2 separate regions of the Homo sapiens genome follow, and region 2 is linked to region 1. The links come from fine-mapping of genetic effects on gene expression. A gene starts in region 1. The other region holds a variant in brackets. All regions are shown on one strand. Distances are between the middles of the regions. Region 1 holds the start of CELSR2 (cadherin EGF LAG seven-pass G-type receptor 2). Region 2 overlaps SARS1 (seryl-tRNA synthetase 1).

Region 1 (4,521 bases):
GCCCTCTGGGATTTCCTCCACCCTCACTGCTCTGTCCTCTGAATTCCTTTAGCCTTTTCTCTCAGTTGCTTCTGGAGCACTTCACCCATGCGACCCTGTTGTGTTGAAAGCCAGGGCCATGCCTTATCCAGGGGGTCCTCAGGAAGCAACCTGAGTAAGGAAATCCCACCAGAGCTAAAGGACAGCCGCAAGGCTAGCCAAGCAGGTTTCCTTCCTTCCCAGAGCCTCCACTGTGAAGTGGGAGGTTTGGACTAGAAGAACAATAAATTCTCTTTTAACAGACCCCAAGCCCTTGCTGCCCCTTGATAGCACCTAAAAGCTATGCAGAAGGGAGGCCTAAATGTCCCTTACACACAGGAGGGAGGTCCATAGGTTCCTTACAACTGGAAAGCTCCATGAAGCAGGCAGCCCTTCCCTGGGGATCAGGGAGGCCTCCACCAGGGCAACCCCTCCCTCATTTGAGACTCTCAGTGATGCATATGAAACTTGGAAATTTCCCTCCTGCTTTTGGGAGTTGGAAGTATCTGAGGAAGTGATGGGGAGAGAGCTCTGTCCTGTGCCCCCGGAGGGAGGACTGGGGAGGATTAAGGACTATTTGCCAAATGTGCTTGGGGATGAAGGAAAGGGTTCCTTGGATCCCCCAACCTATCTGCCTTTGGGTGGAAAGGCCACCCACCTGGAAGGGGCTTCTGAGCTCATGCCTTCCCTGGCAACCCCTGCCTCAAGGTGCAAGGCCCCAGAACCACCTTCCGTGATCCAGAGCCAGGGCTACTCTTTCCTCCCACCCAGAAAGCTTATTTTAGCAACAAAGGGAGCGAGATGAATGGAGAGTTGCAGCTTCTCCACGGGTTGGCTTGGGCCTTCACCAGAAATGAGAGTCTCATTACCCAACCCCAATTCAAAGGATAATTAACAGATGGTATAATTTCCAAGCATTCTCTGCACCACATGGCTATTAGGTGAAGAACAAAATGCCCACGCAGCCCCTAGATCCTTCCAAACTCCAGAGTCTGAGGAAGTCTAGAGAGGCAGAGCCCTGCGGAGGCGTGTAACCCACGCCTCCATCTCCAGAGCTGCCCTTGGCCTTGCTCAGAGGAAGAAAGCTCCTGTTTGGTCAAAGGGGAGGGCATTTCCTTGAGCCATGGGTCCTCCTCCTACTTCTATCCATCCTGCCAGGAGCACAGTCTAACCCTAATCTTTCTTGCTGTACCCAAGGCCCATCTCCTTTCCTGTTTCCCCAGGGGAAAAGAGAAAAGCTGATTTCTCATCCTTGGCCTCACTGTGTGGTCACACAGACACTCCTTGGGCCTGGGGCTGGGGGATCCTCTGCTGTGACCCAGTGAGAGTGGCACCACTGTGACCGGGGGCAGTGGTAGAAGGGAGCACCTGATCCAGTGCTTTTCAGATGGGTTCCTCCAGACCCTCAAGTTGCACAGAGCAGCCCAGGGATTTCTTGGTTGGGGGAGTGGTGGAGAGGGGCAAGGCCCTGACCCCCTCACTTCAACCCAGCAGCACTACTCATCTGTTCTATATTCTGGCCTTCCACTTCAGATTTCTTTTGAAGAAAAGAATTCTACTGCTAAATAAACATTTGAGAACCATTCACCTTATTCAATCCCCTCATTTTACAAAAAGGGACATTGAGGCACAGAATTTGAGCAAGGTCACATAGCTGTGGTGTTGGAGGCTGGGACCCAGGCCCAGGCATCCCCCCAGGCCAGGGCATCCCCCCAGGGACTACCTGACTGGGCCCCTGGCTGCTCCAGGATGTAGGGAAGCCTTTTCTGGGTCGCCTGCACGGCTCCTGCCTGGCTCTCCGTGTGGTCCAGCTTCATGTCTGGTCCTCTTGGAGAACCCCTGGAATCCTGCACACCCTCTCAAATGAAGCTGCCTTGGAGAGGGTCAGGAGCCCGGGTACCAGGTAGGCCTCCTCGCTGGTCACAAAACTGTGGCGGAAGGAGGGGGTAGCCGCAGGACATGGACAGGGAGGCAGGAGGGGATGAGAGGCCGCCTCTCTAGACAGGACCTCAGGGGGCAGTGTAAGCCCCTTGTCTAGAATCCAGGAAGCCTGTGTTAAAGCTAGGCTCCACCGCAGCCGGCCTCCGAATCTGGTGACAGTGTGTTTGCACCACCTGGCTTCCACCCACTCTGACCCTTCTAATTTACTTCCCTGGAAAAGCCCAAGTGGTGTCCAACATGAGGCTGGGGTCATTCTTCCAACAGCCCGACCCCAAGGGGCATGCTGGTCAGACAACAGCCTCGCTGGTGGGGTGGAGGGGACGGTAGGGAGCGAGTGGGCCCGGTGACTCATTGTGGGTGCTTCTCTGGGATTTTGGAGGCTTTGTTGTGTTGCTCAGGGCCCTTTTAACTCTGTCTGACCTATGGGAGGGGACAGCAACGAGGGCTTTTATGACTGGAATGAACTGGAAACTTGGCCTCTGAGAGCCCTTAAAATGTTTTGGAAACCTCTAGGCATACTTAGGGTACTTCCACCATGATTATCATCGGCTGTGTGGCTTCCGATCGCTAATTCGCACCGGGCATCTGGCGAGGCCGGCCTGGGGAAATTGGGATGGAGGGTCCTGCTGGAGGGAATCCTGGCGCTTTGGGCGGAGGAGTGCTCTGGGTGGGGCCCACCTCCTCCAGCGCGGCCGGCGTTGCCGCTTTAAGGCGGCCGCGGCGCGAGCAGGTCTATGGTAATGAGCCGCCGCCGCGACTCTGCAGAGCTCGCCCGCCCGCCGGGGAGGCGAGGGAGCGCGGGGCTGGGCCCGGGGCCGCGGCGACAGGCAGCAGCCGCGGCGGGGACGCGGGGCGCGAGCGGGCGGCGCGGGACCGTCGGGGGCCGCCGGGGCCGGGCCGGGGTCGGGGCGCACGGCTACGCGGGCGCAGGTGGGCGATCCCATAGGGGCGGAGGGGGCACCCCGGCTCCGGAACCCGGGGCCCGGCAAGGCCAGGGGCGCCGCGGGGCCCCCGGGCGCAGGTGGTGAGTGCCCGGAGCGCAGGTGGAGGCGCGGCGGCAGCCCGCGGTGCTCAGGGTGACCCGGGAGCGGGTCTGGCTCAGGGGGCAGTGGGAGCCCGGGCTCGTCGGAGGGTGCAGCGCGGGGTCCCGCCGAGCCATCCAGACGCAGGCCCCGCGGGGCGCACGGGAGGCCCCCGGGGACTGGCGCCCTGGCCCGGGCATGAGGCGCGGCGGGGCCGGCAGGAGCCGGAGGAGGAGCCGCCGCCGCCGTTGACCCGGCCGCCGGCCGGGAGCTGGGAGAGATGCGGAGCCCGGCCACCGGCGTCCCCCTCCCAACGCCGCCGCCGCCGCTGCTGCTGCTGTTGCTGCTGCTGCTGCCGCCGCCACTATTGGGAGACCAAGTGGGGCCCTGTCGTTCCTTGGGGTCCAGGGGACGAGGCTCTTCGGGGGCCTGCGCCCCCATGGGCTGGCTCTGTCCATCCTCAGCGTCGAACCTCTGGCTCTACACCAGCCGCTGCAGGGATGCGGGCACTGAGCTGACTGGCCACCTGGTACCCCACCACGATGGCCTGAGGGTTTGGTGTCCAGAATCCGAGGCCCATATTCCCCTACCACCAGCTCCTGAAGGCTGCCCCTGGAGCTGTCGCCTCCTGGGCATTGGAGGCCACCTTTCCCCACAGGGCAAGCTCACACTGCCCGAGGAGCACCCGTGCTTAAAGGCTCCACGGCTCAGATGCCAGTCCTGCAAGCTGGCACAGGCCCCCGGGCTCAGGGCAGGGGAAAGGTCACCAGAAGAGTCCCTGGGTGGGCGTCGGAAAAGGAATGTAAATACAGCCCCCCAGTTCCAGCCCCCCAGCTACCAGGCCACAGTGCCGGAGAACCAGCCAGCAGGCACCCCTGTTGCATCCCTGAGGGCCATCGACCCGGACGAGGGTGAGGCAGGTCGACTGGAGTACACCATGGATGCCCTCTTTGATAGCCGCTCCAACCAGTTCTTCTCCCTGGACCCAGTCACTGGTGCAGTAACCACAGCCGAGGAGCTGGATCGTGAGACCAAGAGCACCCACGTCTTCAGGGTCACGGCGCAGGACCACGGCATGCCCCGACGAAGTGCCCTGGCTACACTCACCATCTTGGTTACTGACACCAATGACCATGACCCTGTGTTCGAGCAGCAGGAGTACAAGGAGAGCCTCAGGGAGAACCTGGAGGTTGGCTATGAGGTGCTCACTGTCAGGGCCACGGATGGTGATGCCCCTCCCAATGCCAATATTCTGTACCGCCTGCTGGAGGGGTCTGGGGGCAGCCCCTCTGAAGTCTTTGAGATCGACCCTCGCTCTGGGGTGATCCGAACCCGTGGCCCTGTGGATCGGGAAGAGGTGGAATCCTACCAGCTGACGGTAGAGGCAAGTGACCAGGGTCGGGACCCGGGTCCTCGGAGTACCACAGCCGCTGTTTTCCTTTCTGTGGAGGATGACAATGATAATGCCCCCCAGTTTAGTGAGAAGCGCTATGTGGTCCAGGTGAGGGAGGATGTGACTCCAGGGGCCCCAGTACTCCGA
Region 2 (4,000 bases), 26 kb before region 1:
AGATCACTTGATTGTGTATGCAGAATCTGAACTATTACAATTAAATAACTTTAACAAAATAACTGGATACAATACACAGAATCAAAGGTACTTCTATATACAAGTAACAGTTTAGAAGCACCAGGTGCATAGAGATATACCTAATAAATAACATTTAAGACTCATATACTGAAAACTACAAAACATTGCTGAGAGAAATTAAAAACAATGAAGGGATATACTATATTCATTGATTGAAACATTCAGCATTGTTACAATATTTGGTTTTGTTTTATTTTCTTTTTGTTTCTTTTCTTTTTCTCTTTTGAGATAGAGTCTTGTTCTGTCACCTAGCCTGGAGTGCAGTGGAATGATCTTGGCTCACTGCAGTCTCTGCCTCCCAAGTAGCTGGGAGTACAGGCACACACCACCATGCTCAGCTAATTTTTTTGTGTGTGTGTATATATATATATATATATATATATATATATATATATATATTTTTTTTTTTTTTTTTTTTTTTTTTTTTTTTTTGTAGAGACAGGGTTTTGCCACGTTGCCCAGGCTGGTCTCGAATTCCTGGGCTCAAGCGACCCACCCACTTCAGCCTCCCAAAGTGCTGGAATTACAGGCATGAGCCACCACACCTGGCCTTATTTTCTTTTATACTCCCAATACCTACCTTGGTGCCTTGCAAATAGGAGGGAATCTCAAAACGATTATAGATTTACAGGAAGTTGGAAAAATAGTAGAAAGGTCCCGTTTTCCCCAATGATAACATCTTATATAACTCTAGTACAATATTAAAACCAAGAAATTGACATTGCTACAATCCACAAACCTTATTCAGATTTTGCCAGTTTTGCACACATGTGTGTGTGTAGTTCTGTGCAATCTTACCATGTGTAAATTTGTATAACCACTGCCATGCTCAAGATACAGAACTGTTTCATCACCACAAAGATCCTTCTTGCTATCTCTTTGTAGTCTACTCCCTTTGCCCTCCATCTCACCCCTAGCAACCACTAATCTATTATCCATCTCTATAGTTTTATCAATGTGAATAAGTGAATGAGAAAATAGTGATATCATTTTGCATTGAAGTTTTGTTAAAGAGGTATCAAAGAGGAAAGCTTCTTGGTAAAGCCTTAAAGAATGGCTCTCTAGGTGCTATCTTATTTCTAGTCATCAATTTTGCCTCTTAAAAGCTTGAGTTTGGCTGGATGCCATGGCTCACACCTGTAATTCTAGCACTTTGGGAGGCCAAGATGGGTGGATCGCTTGAGCCCAAGAATTTGAGACCAGCCTGGGCAACACAGCAAAACTCCATCTCTACAAAAATAAAAATAAAAAAATTAGCTGGGTGTGGTGGCGCACACCTGTAGTCCTAGCTGCCTGGGAGGCTGAGGTGGGAGGATCACTTGAGTCCAGAAGGCAGAGGTTGCAGTAAGCTGAGGTCGTGCCACTGCACTCCAGCCTAGGTGACAGAGTGAGACCCTGTCTCAACAACAAAAAACCTTGTGCTTAATTTTTATCATATTGCCCCTGACGTTTAGATTCAAGAGGTCCAAATTTTGCTAATCAGAGTTAGACTGATGATCCATGATACCAATATATTAATTTGGGCCAATATGTTGACCAGTTAGTGCCTGTCTTCCCCCA[A/G]AGGAAACCAAATTATAAGAGACTAAATTATTCTCAAGGCTGCTAGATGAGCATTATATCAAAGTAAAAGGGTATCATTAGCCATTTCTAGCATGGAGAGGTAGCAATCATGACTGCACTCTCTATAGATTCCTGTGCATAGCACCTAGTTTCCTTAAATGAGTTTTAAGATAATTGGGCAGGTTAGTTACTTGAGTGTCTTCCAAGTTTTTCAGATGTGTTACTCTATAATGGCTTCATACAGGTTATGATACTTTTTAATTTTAACCTCAGATTGGTCTTTTCCTTGTCACCAAATGCTGGGGACACCCTATTGTAGTCACCATTGTATGCCAACTACATTTGGGGCTCTAAAGCTCTAAGATTAGGCCGGGCACAGTGGCTCACGCCTGTAATCCCAGCACTTTGGGAGGGCGAGGTCAGGAGTTCAAGACCAGCCTGGCCAACATGGTGAAACCCCGTCTCTTCCAAAAACACAAAAATTAGCCGAGTGTGGTGGCGGGCACCTATAATCCCAGCTACTCGGGAGGTTGTGGCAGGAGAACCGCTTGAACCTGGGAGGCAGAAGTTGCAGTGAGCCGAGATTGCACCATTACACTCCAGCCTAGGCAACAAGAGCAAGATGCTGTCTCAAAAAATAAAAATAAAAAGCTGTAAGATTTTATAACTTCATGAGGCAGATCCTTCAGCTCTGCCGGCATTTGGGCCTTAACCTGAAATCAGTACTAAGAAGTCAAGATCAGGAGAAAGGAGTATCTTAATTATGGGCATTTCTTTGGTATAGTCTTGGATTCTTTATTCCTAGGTAGATTTCGGGCAGACAACTTGAACAAGCTGAAGAACCTATGCAGCAAGACAATCGGAGAGAAAATGAAGGTAAGAGAACTGAATAACAAACAGCCATGAGAACTTGAGCGGAGATATTTGATCTTGCTCTTAGCTAATGTTCACAGAAGTTCTAACTCAGTGTTTAAGTCTACAAGATGTTCAATTTCTTACCAAAGGGGAAAATATTATTTTAAAAAGATAGGGAGGCAGGGAACTTGGAGGCATTTTCATATACTTTACCACAAGTCCATCTTCTGTGTTCAGGTAAGATTCTTTGTTGTCTAGCTGTTTGTTGTCTATTCTGTTCTTATATTAGAAATATAAATTCCACCAGTCATCTTTTTTATGGCAGATTTCAGATTTGTCGTCTCAGCGTAGTTATGCTCCATAATGAAAACTACAGATTCAGAGTTCAAATCTTGCTACGTTATGTGTCTTTTAGGCAAGTTAATGCCTCAGCCTCAGTTTTCTCATTTATAAAATGACAATACTAACACTCACCTACAGAATGGAATTGTTAGAACTTTTTTTTTTTAATTTAAACGCCAAGCAATGGTTATGGATAGAACTAAATTTCTTTTAAATGTAGAAAATTTGGCACAGTGTCTAGAACATGTAGTTGTTCAGCAATTGTGAGTTATAATGAATGGCAAGTAATGTTACTGGCCTTCATCCAAAAAAAAAATCCTTCCTATGCCTGAAAAATACTATGTTTCAGCTCAGCTTTTGCTTTGGTATCCAGAATAGTTCATGTTTTTAACCTTCCTTCAAAAATACCTGTTTAGCCCCTTAATCATATTACATTACATATTATAGCTGGGTACAGTAGCTCACGCCTATAATCCCAGCACTTTGGGAGCCAAAGTGGGCAAATTGCTTGAGCTCAGGAGTTCAAGACTAGTCTGCACAACATGGTGAAACCCCATCTCTACAAAAATAAAATGAAACAAAAAAATTAGCCAGACGTGGCGGCCTGTGCCTGTAGTTCCAGCTACTCAGGAGGCTGAGGTGGGAGGATCACTTGAGGCCAGGAGTCAAAAGTTGCAGTGAGCCAAGATTGCGCTACTGAGCTCCATCCAGCCTGGGTTTCCAGTGAAACCCTGTCTCCAAAATAAATAAATTAATTAATTAAATGCACTTTACAATCTAGATAACTTTTACATTGTAAACCTCAAAACTAAACAACAACAACAAAAAATTATAGAACTTTGGAACTGCACCAGTAAAGAGCATAAAAAGATGACCTCGGGATTCTAGCACCTTACACTTAACTTCATGGCAGTCGGCATCTTTCTCTTTGACAATATTTTGTTACACTTTCAGCGTGTAACACTTTTAGCTGTGGAAAGTGATATTGATAATCATCCAGTTTCTTTCTGTGGGACTTAGTCATTCGCATACTAGAGGCCCCATAATTATGTTAATTCCCATGCATACTCCTCCCTGGGTGTTCTTTGGGACCTATGTACAGTCAGTGCCAGCTGGGTATTTTTTGAAGCAAGAAGATGGGATTGTGAGTGTTGTCATTCAC

The links. PIP is the estimated chance that this variant, and not a neighbour inherited with it, causes the effect. A credible set is the group of variants that fine-mapping cannot tell apart.
Region 2: its variant is the best candidate, but not a certain one, in a credible set for the expression of CELSR2 in whole blood (TOPMed, PIP 0.64).

The regions. Positions count from the first base shown.
Region 1 is chr1:109,246,819-109,251,339 of GRCh38, forward strand. CELSR2 (cadherin EGF LAG seven-pass G-type receptor 2) reads left to right here and starts at 2,721. Exons shown (of 34, transcript NM_001408.3): 1 at 2,721-4,521. The coding sequence starts at 3,262. RefSeq lists an enhancer at 2,038-2,758 and silencers at 2,760-2,819, 2,980-3,079, 4,178-4,368.
Region 2 is chr1:109,221,532-109,225,531 of GRCh38, forward strand. It overlaps SARS1 (seryl-tRNA synthetase 1), which reads left to right. Exons shown (of 11, transcript NM_006513.4): 2 at 2,447-2,517. Among named protein-coding and RNA genes, the nearest start is that of SARS1, 9.6 kb to the left of the region's middle. RefSeq lists an enhancer at 3,843-4,000. The variant A/G (reference allele first, on the strand shown) is at 1,642.